Homo sapiens: one gene and its partners. The protein of the gene in region 4 interacts with the protein of the main gene of each other region in a pairwise test. Each region holds a gene or a part of one and is shown on either strand. Other genes may lie near its edges.

Region 1 (4,227 bases), on a different chromosome or scaffold from region 4:
GGAAGCCAAGGACACTGCCGTCAAATTACTGATTCCTGGTTTAGCGGTTCCAGTGAGTCATGCACTCTCCTTGCTTCCGTTAACCGCCCCCCCCCCCACCCCAACACCTTTTGTCTGATTCGTCACATGTCCTTTGATCCCCTTTTTCCTCAATCTGTTTGAAATTTTACCTTCTATTCCAATTCATTTAGTGGTTCCCAAAGGGTACCCACGTTGAGACTTAAAAATGTGTCAGTCTAGATTTTTATTGCTCTTATATTCAGCCAGTCTATCGTCTCCAGGCACTAGAGAAGCACTTTAGTAACTTCTAGCTCCTTCTGAGTTTTCGCATGTCCCACATGTCTATATGAGTGTCTTCTGGAATTTTAATTCTAGGTCATCAATCCTTTTTCCAGAATCGTACTTCTCTGGACTTAAGAATACAGTTTCCTAATTTCCATGCTTAGTGATCCTTGTTGCATCCCACTTCTTCCAGGTTGTCTGGGTTGGCTTCTTCTTGGCTGAAAAACGTGACGTGTACTTTCACTGTACATGACAGTTCCATTCCAATCGCCTTGTACAGAAAGGGTGTTTGGCAGCTTGCATGTTGTAAGTTGCGTACTCCAAGTTCAGGGGAAGCTCAGGCTTCAGGTCCAGTCGGGGGAGGAGTGGAGCAGAAGTGGGGCTGGGGGGAACGTCCAGGTGGAAGGAAGGGAGGCTGGGAACAACGTGGGTGGCAGATAGTGGTCAATACGCAATGTCGGTGAGGAACACTGGGACCCCTTGCACGTAGGTGCCCTGGGGGGTTTGAATGACTTGTAAAACCGCTGAGTCACCCAGAGCCCTAAACCCGATGCAGGGATAGAGGGTCAAGACGGGTTGCCAGTCAACAGCCTGAGGCCCAGGAGCAGCGGGCGGCTCCTGAAACCCCAGCTCAGGTTGCGCCACGTCGGGGCCAGGGCCTTCCTGCACAGTTCCAGGCGGAGGACCTGTTTCAGAAAGGGAGAAGGCTGCGGTCTCCGTGATTTCCGGTTCCCCCTGGTGGCCTGGCTCTCCATGGTGGTCCAGTTGGATGTGCACGTCCGGTGCCATCAAGCCTTCTGCCCCCTGTCTCTGGCCAGCGTCCCCGCGGGGCCCAGCCCTTCTGCCACGGCCTCGCCCTGGCCGCCGGCTTCCTCCCCGGCGCCGGCCTCTCTCTGCAGGAGGGGGTGACTCTGGGCGAGCTGGGGGCTGCCGTCTGAAGGGTTTCACGTAAGCGATGGGTTTTGCGGGTTGGGCTGGCTGTGCGGGCCCATCTGCTTCCACGGAGCCTTCAGGGTCCGCAACACAGCAGCCTGGCTCTGGAGGAGGCCCACCTGAGGCTAAAAGAGAAGCGGAGCGTGAGCAGAGAGAGACAGAAGGAACTTCACCCGTCAAGCAGTTATAGGATACTTTTACAAATAAATACTCAGAGAAAAGAGGGATTTCTGAAGTTAAAATTGTGAGAGAAGAAACAAAACTCTCCACGGAAGTTGGAGAAAGAAGTTGAGAAGGTCTCCCACAGAACAAAGCAAAAACCTAAAATGATGGAAAGAAGGATGAAATATAAGAGAATTAGAGGTATGCTGTGGCTGAGACATTTCACCAGAAAATTTCAGAGTGCTGAGGAAAAAGAGAAGATTCTAACAGATTCTAGAGAGCGGGAGACAGAGAAAGGAAAAGTCACATGGAAAGGGCTAGGATTCCACATGTCTCAAAAGTCAGACATCTCAAAAGCAGCAGTTCAGTCTAGAACATAACAGAAAATGTCTTCGAAATTTCAAGGGAAATGAATTTCCCACCTAAAATTTCCTGTCCAACCGAAGTTTCGCTGAAGAATCTGGGAGGGGAGAATGAAGATGTTTCAGACAAGCAAGATGTTAAAGAATTTCCTTTCAGTGGATGCTTTATTGTTATGCATCTGTCAAACTAGACAAGATTAAAAGATTTAGGACACTCAGCGTATGAAGGGAAAAGTTTTGGAGAACAACGTGGCAACAGCCGGAAAATTCCAACTCCTCCGGGAAAGAACAAGGTGGAAGTACCGGTTTATCATAGATCAAGACGTAGCGTGAGGACTCGCTCTGCTACGGAGAAACAGTAATACAAAACTAAACAGAAGGAAACAGCGACAACAACAGCAAATCTCAGATTTGGGAAATGGGATTACGGTTCGGAAGAGGGAAAGGAATTTCCCAGATGATGTGGAACCCGGGAGCTGACTTCCAACAAGCAGCCCAGGTTGAGGCAGGCTAGGAGAAGGTGAAACAGAGAATGCTTGATTGAGTTTGAGTGTCAACCATTGGGGAAGAATTGGGGAACAGACGAAATTAAAAAGAGAGGAGTGGCAGGCGTTTGATGTACCTTGATTAGGGGCCATGGAGCGAAGTCGCTTCGAAGGCCTTGGTTCCTCCATGAGCAATCGGCGGGAGGGGCTGGGGAGAAAAACAAGAGAGCAAGAACGGATTTAGGAAGACAGAGGTGACAAGGCAGGGGGATGGCCGTGGCCTTTCTAGGGGAATGAGGATTCTGTCCCCAACTGCACCCACCCGAGATCCGTCCACGCCTCCGGGACCCCCAGACACACACCTGATCTTCCCACAGCTGGCTCCGGAGATCTGAAAATTAGGAGACTCTTCGACGAAGAGAGGCCCGAGGAGTCGGAGGTGTCCACAGGTTCACCGCTGTAGCTCTGAGGTAGTCCACCCGCAGCCAGGGAGTCTGGAGGGAGCACGCAGCAGGTTCTGGCTCCGAGCCCAGCAGAAAGCCGACTGCTGGAGGCCGAGCGCCGTCCCTCTTATATGGCAGCAAGGCAGTCGCGTAAGGGACAGGCGTCGTCAGAGGGGGGCCGGCTGGGGCGGGCCTGGCTGGGCTTGCGAGGCGCATTGGGCCAGTCCCCTGCCAGTCAAATGGGGGCCCTTCTGAGATGCCGCCATTTCTAGACGTCCGTGGTTGATTGATTAATCTAATCATCGAGGAAAAAAAATTGCATAATGACCTCTGAGTGTCAGCACAATGAGGTGTGGTGCCCTGAAAGCGGCTGACAGGAAGATGCGATTAGCTTAGATCTGAGCATGGTCAAGGAAAGCATCCAAAGCGGGGATATCTGGGCTGAAATCTGGAACATAACGTTTGAAATTAGTCATCCTGAACCGGGTTGGGAGAGGCAGGGAGGGAGGAAGGGGAGTGAAGAGAGTGTGCTGAGGCCCGGACTGGAAGGGAGCCCGGCACATTCTGGGAATGGACGGGAGGCCAAGTCCAGGCCCGGAGGTGGTGCGAGGTGGAGGCAGGGTCCGCGCAGGAGCTGGTCTTGTTCCAAGGCAGCGGAAAACCGTGGAACGGTGTCCGGCAGCGGGTTAACATTTCAGAAACGACCAGCCTGGCTGTGAAGGAGCGCCAACCCAGGGTCCGCAGAATAAGTCAGGAGAGGCAAGAAGGCTATTGCAGCCCTCGGGGTTGGGCGCAGGGTGCTGTTAGACTGAGACTCAGGGAGGTAGAGGAGGAGAAAGTTCCCTGGTGGGAGAGAAATTTCCAAGAGAAAGCGAGACCCAGTGTGGACAGCCCTTGAGGAAGAGACTGCGGCCTTGGTAGCCCGCCGGTTCATTCAGGCAGAGGTGGACCGAGAACCTGCTCTGAACGGGAAGTTGCGGAGCTTGGCTTGCGCACATCTGGTTGAAGGGGCTTTTGAACTGCCAAGTGAGGATGTCAAGTGGCCTTTTGTAAAAAGAGTCGAGCTCAGCGCGATGGCGACGGGGCTGGAGATGCGTGTGAGACCCACACCGCTGGCTTTTATTGCTGTGGGTGCACTCACGGGTGGAGGAAGACAGCGGGAAACACAGCAGGACGCTGGAGGGGATCCCACAGTGGGTTATTTGGTTGGTTTGCATCCTTGTGTCTTTTACAGAGACGGGTTCTCGCTCTGTAGCCCAGGCTGGAGTGCAGCGGTGCCATCTCGGCTCGCTGCGGCTACTTGGGGGGGGGGGGGGGGGGGGGCTGAGATAGGAGAATCAGTTCAAGTGATTCTCCTGTCTCGGCCTCCGGAGTAGCTGGACTACAGGTGAGCGCCACCACATCGGGATAATTTTCGGATTTTTTTGGAGAGACGAGGTTTCGCTATGTGCCCAGGCTTGTTTGGAAGGCCTGAGCTCAAGCCGTCCGTCCCGCTCAACCTCCCGAGTCGCTGGGACCCCAGGCGCAAGCCACCATGCCGGGCCAATTATTTTTTTGGGT
Region 2 (3,500 bases), on a different chromosome or scaffold from region 4:
ATGTCCACAAAGACATTACAACCAAAGAGTGTGAGCCCTTGAATTACCTCAAAACCCCTAGGTCAGATCAGCTAAGCACATAACACAAGTATAGAGAGCCATGAGGGTTAAAGGAAGTTAGAGGAAACAAGAAAAGTTTGAAGGAGAAAACAGAATTTGAAACAACACACACACCTAAATCCCATACACACACAGAAACACAGGCCTAAATCCTAACAATGGGGCTGAACCAAGTGGGAGGAAAGAAGCCAGTACACAAACATGTGCTAGTGAAGTGAGGGAATAGGAAAGGAGGTGTGAGAACTGAGATACTGGGCCGGGCGTGGTGGCTCACGCCTGTAATCCCAGCATTTTGGGAGGCCAAGGCGGGTGGATCATGAGGTCAGGAGATCGAGACCATCCTGGCTCATATGATGAAACCCTGTCTCTACTAAAAATACAGAAAATTAGCCGGGTATGATGGCACGAGCCTGTAGTCCCAGCTACTCGGGAGGCTGAGGCAGGAGAATTGCTTGAACCCGGGAGGCGGAGGTTGCAGTGGGCTGAGATTGTGCCACTGCACTCCAGCCTGGGCGACAGAGTGAGACTCTATCTCAAAAAAACAAAAAACAAAACAAAACAAAAAACAAACCTGAGATACTGTCGCTTGTGCTCTATCGACATTGTAGTTGAACAGTTCGCTTTAAGCAAATGCTGGATTCTTTAAATAACAACTTTTCTGAGAGTCAGATTTAAGTATTTGGTGATGATAAACTATGGTCATGTTATAGCTTTCAGCTAGCCCTCATTTCTATACTTCATTCCAAATTCCAGCCATCTTTGGCATTTAAAGCCAATAAAATTCTCAGATCACAGGAAAGGATTGAGGTTAGGGGCTGTAGTTCAATGACAGACACACAACGTAAGTGTCTGCCATATGCTAAGAACCCCCAAGCTAAAGTATCTCATTTAATCTGAATTACGAGATAGGAAATACTTTGCCATTCATTAAAAAAAAAAAAATCCAATAGCATTTCAAAAAGCAACATTATTATAAATACATATATATGATATGTAGACAGATGGCTAATTACCTCATGATCATGAGTGGCCTGCCGGGCTGCATCTAAAAATATAAAAGAATAAGAGAACATTACATTTAAAAAGAAAGCAATAACAAAACCCAAGTATACGACTCTGCCAAACTATAAAACCTGCTTGTATATGTAGATTCTCATAACATATGATATTTTTCCTTAAGGCTTTATTAATCGGTCAGCCAACAAAAGTAAGGGAACCCCATGCCTACAGAATTCATAATTAGGCATAAGAGAAACAGCAGACACAGTTCTTAACTTTAGGGAGAAAAGGGTGGAAGAGTGGACAGAAGACACAAACCAAAGACTACTTATACAACATCTATAATTTTAGCAGGCTAGATGCCCAAGTATAGAGAAGATGCAATGGCTAAGGAAAAATAGGCTAGTTGTGGATGGTGCTTCAAAAATGACACATGAAAGGCTTAGAAGTGTTAAAGGGAAGTTACTGATATAATTTTGTAGATAGGCTTGCTTACAGGCAGAGAAATGCCTAAACTGGGAATCAGGAAAAGAAGGGCAGGCAACTAACAGGGGTCTCGGAGGACAAGTCAAAATCATTGATAATAGACACGGAAACCCAGTTGAAATTTCTAAATGAGAGCAATGTGATTTTAATAAAATTTCAAGATAATGCTTGTAAGTGAATACTGGATAGTGGAGAAAAAACAGAAACACATCTTTTATAGTTACCACTCTTAACAGTTGGCTTTATGACACTCCATCACCCACAACAAACTACAAATACATTTGGTTCTGGTTTTGATACCTTGCCTATGAGATTTGCCTTTCTGACGGTCCTGGGTTTTCCTACTGAAGACCTTGTAGGCCTCTGTTTTCTGATACTGTTCCAGTTCCTTCATGTAACGCTCCTTATCTCTGTCTGCTTCATCAAGGTAGCGCTAGGAAAGAAATACAGAATTATTTTCAAGAAAATGAGATCCTATTTAAATAAAATTAAATTACCTATTTGAAGAAAACAGGACAATTAGAACATGGGAAGAAAAGAATATAGGGAATATGCCTTAAAAAAGAATCAGAAAAACAAGAGTTGTATGAATAGAATAAAATATAACCTCTCAATTATAAAAGTAAATAGGTCATTATGAGTTTTTAGAATATTTATTGCCTTTTCTAACCTAATGAAGACAAGTTCTATTGAGATCATTCTTATAAAAAATTCATGAAGATGATTAGAGTTATTCTTCTAACTCTATAGATAGAACTCTATATGGCCACTAGAGTCATCCTCATGAGATGTGCACACCACATAGGCACACTTAGTCTTCCCAAGGGAAGGAACAGAATATTACTTTGTTTTGCTGTCTCCAGCCCATTTTGAGGGGATGATGTCATACATCAATTGGCCCTTTAAGAGCCAGGAGGTTGGAGCAATGAAGCTGGGAGACACAAAGAACATAAAAATAATGACCTCATCCTATGGACCTAAAAATGGACTACTCTGAGAGAACCTATATCTACATGCTTTGATTGCTTTGTGCTATTAATTATTTAAACAAAGTTCATTGATCTACCAGGATTATTTTGTTTAATGCTTTGCCCTTTTCATTCATCAAAATGAAGTATAAGAAAGTATAAAAATACTGCTTCTAAATGAACAGAAAACACACTCAGAAATTATGTTAAACACTTTGTCCCGCGTAAGAGCCAGATGTAGGGGATACTCAACTGGCCAAATCTGGTACAATTTAAGCACCAAAATAATTAAGTACAGTAATAAATTATAAACTAGTAGAAAAAACTTCATACTATTATTAGTATGATTTATAACAGACACAATACCAATGATTTGTTACCATACAAATACAATAAATGGGTGTAGAGGCTGAGCGTGGTGGCTCACGCACGTAATCCCAACATTTTGGGAGACCGAGGTGGGTGGATCACTTGAGGTCAGGAGTTCAAGACCACACTGGTCAACATGCTGAAACCCCATCTCTACTAAAAATACAAAAATTAGCTGGGTGTGATGGTGCACGCCTGTAGTCCCAGCTACTTGGGAAGCTGAGGCTAGAGAATCGCTTGAACCTGGGAGGTGGAGGTTGCAATGAGCCGAGAGTGTGCCACCGCACTCCAGTTTGGGCGACAGAGCAAGATTCCATCTCAAAAAACAAACAAACAAACAAACAAACAAATAAATAAATGGGGGTAGGGGGTCGGGCATGGTGGCTCATATCTGTAATCACAGGATGTTGGGAGGCCAAGGCAAGAGGAGGACTGCTTGAGCCCAGATGTTTGAGTCCAGCCTAGGCAACAAAGTGAGATCCCATCTCTACAAAACATAAAATAATTAGCCAGTTTTGGTGGTGTGTGCTACTTAGGAGGCTAAGGTGGGAGGGGTGCTTGAGACCAGGAGGTCAAGGTTGCAGTAAGCCAAGATCTTGCTTAGATTAGAATGCTGAA
Region 3 (3,982 bases), on a different chromosome or scaffold from region 4:
GGAAGCCAAGGACACTGCCGTCAAATTACTGATTCCTGGTTTAGCGGTTCCAGTGAGTCATGCACTCTCCTTGCTTCCGTTAACCGCCCCCCCCCCCACCCCAACACCTTTTGTCTGATTCGTCACATGTCCTTTGATCCCCTTTTTCCTCAATCTGTTTGAAATTTTACCTTCTATTCCAATTCATTTAGTGGTTCCCAAAGGGTACCCACGTTGAGACTTAAAAATGTGTCAGTCTAGATTTTTATTGCTCTTATATTCAGCCAGTCTATCGTCTCCAGGCACTAGAGAAGCACTTTAGTAACTTCTAGCTCCTTCTGAGTTTTCGCATGTCCCACATGTCTATATGAGTGTCTTCTGGAATTTTAATTCTAGGTCATCAATCCTTTTTCCAGAATCGTACTTCTCTGGACTTAAGAATACAGTTTCCTAATTTCCATGCTTAGTGATCCTTGTTGCATCCCACTTCTTCCAGGTTGTCTGGGTTGGCTTCTTCTTGGCTGAAAAACGTGACGTGTACTTTCACTGTACATGACAGTTCCATTCCAATCGCCTTGTACAGAAAGGGTGTTTGGCAGCTTGCATGTTGTAAGTTGCGTACTCCAAGTTCAGGGGAAGCTCAGGCTTCAGGTCCAGTCGGGGGAGGAGTGGAGCAGAAGTGGGGCTGGGGGGAACGTCCAGGTGGAAGGAAGGGAGGCTGGGAACAACGTGGGTGGCAGATAGTGGTCAATACGCAATGTCGGTGAGGAACACTGGGACCCCTTGCACGTAGGTGCCCTGGGGGGTTTGAATGACTTGTAAAACCGCTGAGTCACCCAGAGCCCTAAACCCGATGCAGGGATAGAGGGTCAAGACGGGTTGCCAGTCAACAGCCTGAGGCCCAGGAGCAGCGGGCGGCTCCTGAAACCCCAGCTCAGGTTGCGCCACGTCGGGGCCAGGGCCTTCCTGCACAGTTCCAGGCGGAGGACCTGTTTCAGAAAGGGAGAAGGCTGCGGTCTCCGTGATTTCCGGTTCCCCCTGGTGGCCTGGCTCTCCATGGTGGTCCAGTTGGATGTGCACGTCCGGTGCCATCAAGCCTTCTGCCCCCTGTCTCTGGCCAGCGTCCCCGCGGGGCCCAGCCCTTCTGCCACGGCCTCGCCCTGGCCGCCGGCTTCCTCCCCGGCGCCGGCCTCTCTCTGCAGGAGGGGGTGACTCTGGGCGAGCTGGGGGCTGCCGTCTGAAGGGTTTCACGTAAGCGATGGGTTTTGCGGGTTGGGCTGGCTGTGCGGGCCCATCTGCTTCCACGGAGCCTTCAGGGTCCGCAACACAGCAGCCTGGCTCTGGAGGAGGCCCACCTGAGGCTAAAAGAGAAGCGGAGCGTGAGCAGAGAGAGACAGAAGGAACTTCACCCGTCAAGCAGTTATAGGATACTTTTACAAATAAATACTCAGAGAAAAGAGGGATTTCTGAAGTTAAAATTGTGAGAGAAGAAACAAAACTCTCCACGGAAGTTGGAGAAAGAAGTTGAGAAGGTCTCCCACAGAACAAAGCAAAAACCTAAAATGATGGAAAGAAGGATGAAATATAAGAGAATTAGAGGTATGCTGTGGCTGAGACATTTCACCAGAAAATTTCAGAGTGCTGAGGAAAAAGAGAAGATTCTAACAGATTCTAGAGAGCGGGAGACAGAGAAAGGAAAAGTCACATGGAAAGGGCTAGGATTCCACATGTCTCAAAAGTCAGACATCTCAAAAGCAGCAGTTCAGTCTAGAACATAACAGAAAATGTCTTCGAAATTTCAAGGGAAATGAATTTCCCACCTAAAATTTCCTGTCCAACCGAAGTTTCGCTGAAGAATCTGGGAGGGGAGAATGAAGATGTTTCAGACAAGCAAGATGTTAAAGAATTTCCTTTCAGTGGATGCTTTATTGTTATGCATCTGTCAAACTAGACAAGATTAAAAGATTTAGGACACTCAGCGTATGAAGGGAAAAGTTTTGGAGAACAACGTGGCAACAGCCGGAAAATTCCAACTCCTCCGGGAAAGAACAAGGTGGAAGTACCGGTTTATCATAGATCAAGACGTAGCGTGAGGACTCGCTCTGCTACGGAGAAACAGTAATACAAAACTAAACAGAAGGAAACAGCGACAACAACAGCAAATCTCAGATTTGGGAAATGGGATTACGGTTCGGAAGAGGGAAAGGAATTTCCCAGATGATGTGGAACCCGGGAGCTGACTTCCAACAAGCAGCCCAGGTTGAGGCAGGCTAGGAGAAGGTGAAACAGAGAATGCTTGATTGAGTTTGAGTGTCAACCATTGGGGAAGAATTGGGGAACAGACGAAATTAAAAAGAGAGGAGTGGCAGGCGTTTGATGTACCTTGATTAGGGGCCATGGAGCGAAGTCGCTTCGAAGGCCTTGGTTCCTCCATGAGCAATCGGCGGGAGGGGCTGGGGAGAAAAACAAGAGAGCAAGAACGGATTTAGGAAGACAGAGGTGACAAGGCAGGGGGATGGCCGTGGCCTTTCTAGGGGAATGAGGATTCTGTCCCCAACTGCACCCACCCGAGATCCGTCCACGCCTCCGGGACCCCCAGACACACACCTGATCTTCCCACAGCTGGCTCCGGAGATCTGAAAATTAGGAGACTCTTCGACGAAGAGAGGCCCGAGGAGTCGGAGGTGTCCACAGGTTCACCGCTGTAGCTCTGAGGTAGTCCACCCGCAGCCAGGGAGTCTGGAGGGAGCACGCAGCAGGTTCTGGCTCCGAGCCCAGCAGAAAGCCGACTGCTGGAGGCCGAGCGCCGTCCCTCTTATATGGCAGCAAGGCAGTCGCGTAAGGGACAGGCGTCGTCAGAGGGGGGCCGGCTGGGGCGGGCCTGGCTGGGCTTGCGAGGCGCATTGGGCCAGTCCCCTGCCAGTCAAATGGGGGCCCTTCTGAGATGCCGCCATTTCTAGACGTCCGTGGTTGATTGATTAATCTAATCATCGAGGAAAAAAAATTGCATAATGACCTCTGAGTGTCAGCACAATGAGGTGTGGTGCCCTGAAAGCGGCTGACAGGAAGATGCGATTAGCTTAGATCTGAGCATGGTCAAGGAAAGCATCCAAAGCGGGGATATCTGGGCTGAAATCTGGAACATAACGTTTGAAATTAGTCATCCTGAACCGGGTTGGGAGAGGCAGGGAGGGAGGAAGGGGAGTGAAGAGAGTGTGCTGAGGCCCGGACTGGAAGGGAGCCCGGCACATTCTGGGAATGGACGGGAGGCCAAGTCCAGGCCCGGAGGTGGTGCGAGGTGGAGGCAGGGTCCGCGCAGGAGCTGGTCTTGTTCCAAGGCAGCGGAAAACCGTGGAACGGTGTCCGGCAGCGGGTTAACATTTCAGAAACGACCAGCCTGGCTGTGAAGGAGCGCCAACCCAGGGTCCGCAGAATAAGTCAGGAGAGGCAAGAAGGCTATTGCAGCCCTCGGGGTTGGGCGCAGGGTGCTGTTAGACTGAGACTCAGGGAGGTAGAGGAGGAGAAAGTTCCCTGGTGGGAGAGAAATTTCCAAGAGAAAGCGAGACCCAGTGTGGACAGCCCTTGAGGAAGAGACTGCGGCCTTGGTAGCCCGCCGGTTCATTCAGGCAGAGGTGGACCGAGAACCTGCTCTGAACGGGAAGTTGCGGAGCTTGGCTTGCGCACATCTGGTTGAAGGGGCTTTTGAACTGCCAAGTGAGGATGTCAAGTGGCCTTTTGTAAAAAGAGTCGAGCTCAGCGCGATGGCGACGGGGCTGGAGATGCGTGTGAGACCCACACCGCTGGCTTTTATTGCTGTGGGTGCACTCACGGGTGGAGGAAGACAGCGGGAAACACAGCAGGACGCTGGAGGGGATCCCACAGTGGGTTATTTGGTTGGTTTGCATCCTTGTGTCTTTTACAGAGACGGGTTCTCGCTCTGTAGCCCAGGCTGGAGTGCAGCGGTGCCATCTCGGCTCGCTGCGGCTACTTGGGGGGGGGGGGG
Region 4 (3,500 bases):
CAACTGTTTCTTCAAATGAAATCTTATGGAGGAAGTCAAATGTAAGAGAAGCTTCACTGACTGCAGTGGGATGGGGCTGGCAGCAACTCCATTCACAGGCATTCTGTTTCCCACCACGGCCCCTCATTAGATCCCTGGCCTCTCAAAAGAGTGTTAAGGCTCTAAAACTATACCAGGAAGTATATTTTTGCAAAACCAAATGGGCTCTAAGTAATTAGTTTTCAAAATTCTCCAGTGTATTGTTTTGGACTTATGTTTCAGACTGGTGATAAAATTTCAGCACCTCACAACACCATGACACGGCAGGGCAGAAGGAAACCCTCTGCCGGGAAGCAGATGACCTGGACGTCAGCCCCAGCTTTGCCATTAACTGGCTCCTCAAGCCAGGGCAAGTCAGTTTCTTCTGACACAAAATGAGGGGTTTAGATGAAATGGTCCATAAAGTCTCTGCCTATTTTAAAATACTGTAATTAATCAACATTTGAACATGTATACCTGTCATTTACAAATGTCCATGCCATTTGAACCAACTTTTGAATTTTGTTTTTATCACCTAGAAATGGGGACAAAAAGGTAAATTAATAGCAATAGAAAAATTCACAGGCAGCATCAAGTATTTATTAAAAACCTACCACGTGTTCAGCACCACTCAAATACACAGCAAAGAGCTTTTGCGTGGGAAACAAGGATGAATGATGTGGGTCCACATCCTACCCCTTCTTCCTCCTCATGACCTACGCTGAACCACCATGTATGGAAAACCTGGCTCCAAGGCTAAGTTTATTAGTCCATTTAAAAAATTCTGCCTCATTTTCCTGCCTCTCCCATCACTTGGCAACTGGATGACAGAGCCTGTTTATACATAAAAGGAAACAGCATTAGCAGCTGCAATGCTGAATTGACTGAGCAAGCCATGCCCTTGGTATTTCACACATCAAACTTTGTTTTCCGCTTTTGAGAAGCGTAATTTGAGTGTCATCAAATTATAAAGACTTGATTTCAGAATGAAAAAATTCTTCTGAAAACTTTCTTCTTACCTTTGAGTTGCTTTGCATATTTTAGTAGGAACTGGTATGGATGTTCTACCTGTAAATCAAACTTGATGGTCTGCAGTAAGATTCTCTCCAGAACCATTACTTCCTCCTAAAAATCAATCACAAATGTTAGGACAGTAATTACAATTGCAGGTCTCAAGCAGCATTACAAAAGTGAGCTTTCCTGTCTATTTATTCTCTCTTCAAGTTATATTTTAGCAACTGCCTTTCCTTCCTTTCTCTCCCACTCAGACTTTTAACATGCTCAGAGACACTGATAAATTCTGAAAAGATCTCAAACAGGAAGACAAAGCAGAGGTGTAATGTAAAAAAAAATACTGAAAACAAAAGATCCTTAAAAATATTATTATTTTCAATACATACATGAGTCTCCCTTTACAAAACAGATCTTTACGTTATTGATAATTTGACTAAATTGTAATTTCTTTCAAGACCTCAAATTTTAAAAATGCAATCTTTTAGGAATTTTCATTGAAAACATTTTAAGCAAGAAAGAGTTTATGATAGCCAGCCTCATGAAAACTCAGAGATAAATTGTACCAGTGTGTGTGTATGTGTGTGTATATATACTCATGTACACATATAGTGTATTACGTGCAAATGGGGGCAAATCAATTTTGTGTTTAAATCTTTCATTTATTTGAAATAAATCATCCCAACAACACTTACTGAATAAATGATCATTTCCAATTTTATTTAAAATGCTACCTAAATCACCTCCTAAACTACGTGTGTATGTCTGCCTACACACACACTATCTTTTCTGTTCACTGATCTGCCTGTCTACTCCTGGACCAGGATCAAAGGGATTTGGGTGGGATACAATAGCTCCAGTATTACTTCTCTTTTTCAAACAGTTTCTGGGTTCTGCATGTCCCCCTCACTCAAATTTTAGTAACCATTTTACTTAGTATCATTACAGAAAACATACATGCTATTAATATTCTCATTGGAAACTCAGAGGATTTATAGAATAATTAGGGAGAATGGAGATTTTTAACCATATTGAAGTTTCCTTCCAAAAATTTATTAATATCTTTTCAGTCCTTTAGTTGTTTTAAAGTCCTTTCCACCCCACTAACGAGGTTTCCACAAGGTTTAACCTTGGATATTTTACTGTTGCTATCGTTAATGGAATGTCCTCTTTGATGATACTCTCTAACTAATGTCTTGAACTCAGCCCCTGTACAGCCGACTGTACCTACTGCTTAAAGACAACATAAACCACAACCAAGACACTGTGTGCGGGGAGGACAATTTGAGAGAATTCCTTGTTTGGCATCAAAGACAGGGCGTTGTAGAGGACTGTAAATCTCATCAACAGGTGCAGAGACCCACAGGTCACTGGCTTTCATTTAGAAGCATGGTATTATTTTATAGGATACAGAGATGATTCTATAATTATTATTCCAAATTACATGGCAAGACTAAGGTTTTTCAATCTTAGTTTCCCAAGCATTTTCTCATGAAAGTTTTTTAAAATCTTAGAAACTTTCACACAGTGTAAAAAAAACTGGGCTGGACATGGTGGCTCATGCCTGTAATCCCAGCACTTTGGGAGGCCGAGGCGGGCAGATCACTTGAGGTCAGGAGTTCAAGACCAGCCTGGCCAACATGCTGAAACCCCACCTCTACCAAAAATATAAAAATTAGCCAATCATGGTGGCAGGCGCCTGTAGTCCCCTACTTGGGAAGCTGAGGCAGGAGAATCGCTCGAGCCTGGGCGGCAGAGGCTGCAGTGAGCTGAGACTGTGCCACTGCACTCCAGCCTGAGTAACAAGAGTGAGACTCCATCTCAAAAAACAAAACAAAACAATTTTTTTCTTTGAATGTCATTGTCACCACCTGCTTCCCAGAAGCTTCAACACTTCCTCTAAATTTAGAAACAATTCTTTTTACCAAGTGTACCAATTGGCTTGCAGGCTGTAGCCCACATACTGTTACAGGATAGCCCAGGGCCTGCCCTCCCTCTGTCTTCCAAATATTCAATTAATGGGGTCATTATAGGTCTTTGAGCAAACATCATTCCTCAGGAACGCCTTCCCTCAGCCCCTATTTATCCGGGGGACTTGCCTGGGTCCCTGGGTGGAATGCTATCACAGCACCTTAAATGACCTTTTACAGCGTACACCACAACTCATCATCAAATAGTTATATACTCATTTGATTAAAATTTATCCTGCCACTCAACTGCAGAGTCCATGAGAGCAGAGACCATGTCTGTTCTGCCTCGTGCCTCATGTCTAGTGCCCAACACAAAGGCTGAAACGAATATTACAGAGAAAAGCCACACAATTAAAATAAAGCTAATTAAGGCAAAAAATGTTCCATGGGACTCATGATCTTATTTTTCCTAAATACTTATACTGCCTCCACTAAAGAATTGCCCTCCTGTCTGCAGAGGAAAACATCTTCCCCAATGTCTTCACTGCTCCCAGCTCCAGG

The links. The genes of interacting proteins can lie anywhere in the genome.
Region 1: the proteins of CCNK (region 4) and PRR20E interact in a two-hybrid assay, tested with the Homo sapiens proteins (one large-scale study listed by BioGRID).
Region 2: the proteins of CCNK (region 4) and HMG20A interact in a two-hybrid assay, tested with the Homo sapiens proteins (one large-scale study listed by BioGRID and IntAct).
Region 3: the proteins of CCNK (region 4) and PRR20D interact in a two-hybrid assay, tested with the Homo sapiens proteins (one large-scale study listed by BioGRID).

Annotation. Positions count from the first base shown.
Region 1 is NC_000013.11:57,165,770-57,169,996, reverse strand, and holds the start of PRR20E (proline-rich protein 20E), read right to left. Parts: upstream 2,801-4,227; 5' UTR 2,587-2,800; intron 2,433-2,586; 5' UTR 2,414-2,432; coding exon 2,362-2,413; intron 1,341-2,361; coding exon 727-1,340; 3' UTR 1-726.
Region 2 is NC_000015.10:77,469,388-77,472,887, reverse strand, and holds part of HMG20A (high mobility group protein 20A), read right to left. Parts: intron 1,979-3,500; coding exon 1,846-1,978; intron 1,106-1,845; coding exon 1,074-1,105; intron 1-1,073. UniProt on the Homo sapiens protein: Plays a role in neuronal differentiation as chromatin-associated protein. Acts as inhibitor of HMG20B. Overcomes the repressive effects of the neuronal silencer REST and induces the activation of neuronal-specific genes.
Region 3 is NC_000013.11:57,159,450-57,163,431, reverse strand, and holds the start of PRR20D (proline-rich protein 20D), read right to left. Parts: upstream 2,801-3,982; 5' UTR 2,587-2,800; intron 2,433-2,586; 5' UTR 2,414-2,432; coding exon 2,362-2,413; intron 1,341-2,361; coding exon 727-1,340; 3' UTR 1-726.
Region 4 is NC_000014.9:99,498,409-99,501,908, reverse strand, and holds part of CCNK (cyclin-K), read right to left. Parts: intron 1,720-3,500; exon of another isoform or gene 1,144-1,719; coding exon 1,038-1,143; exon of another isoform or gene 554-1,037; coding exon 496-553; exon of another isoform or gene 1-495. UniProt on the Homo sapiens protein: Regulatory subunit of cyclin-dependent kinases that mediates activation of target kinases.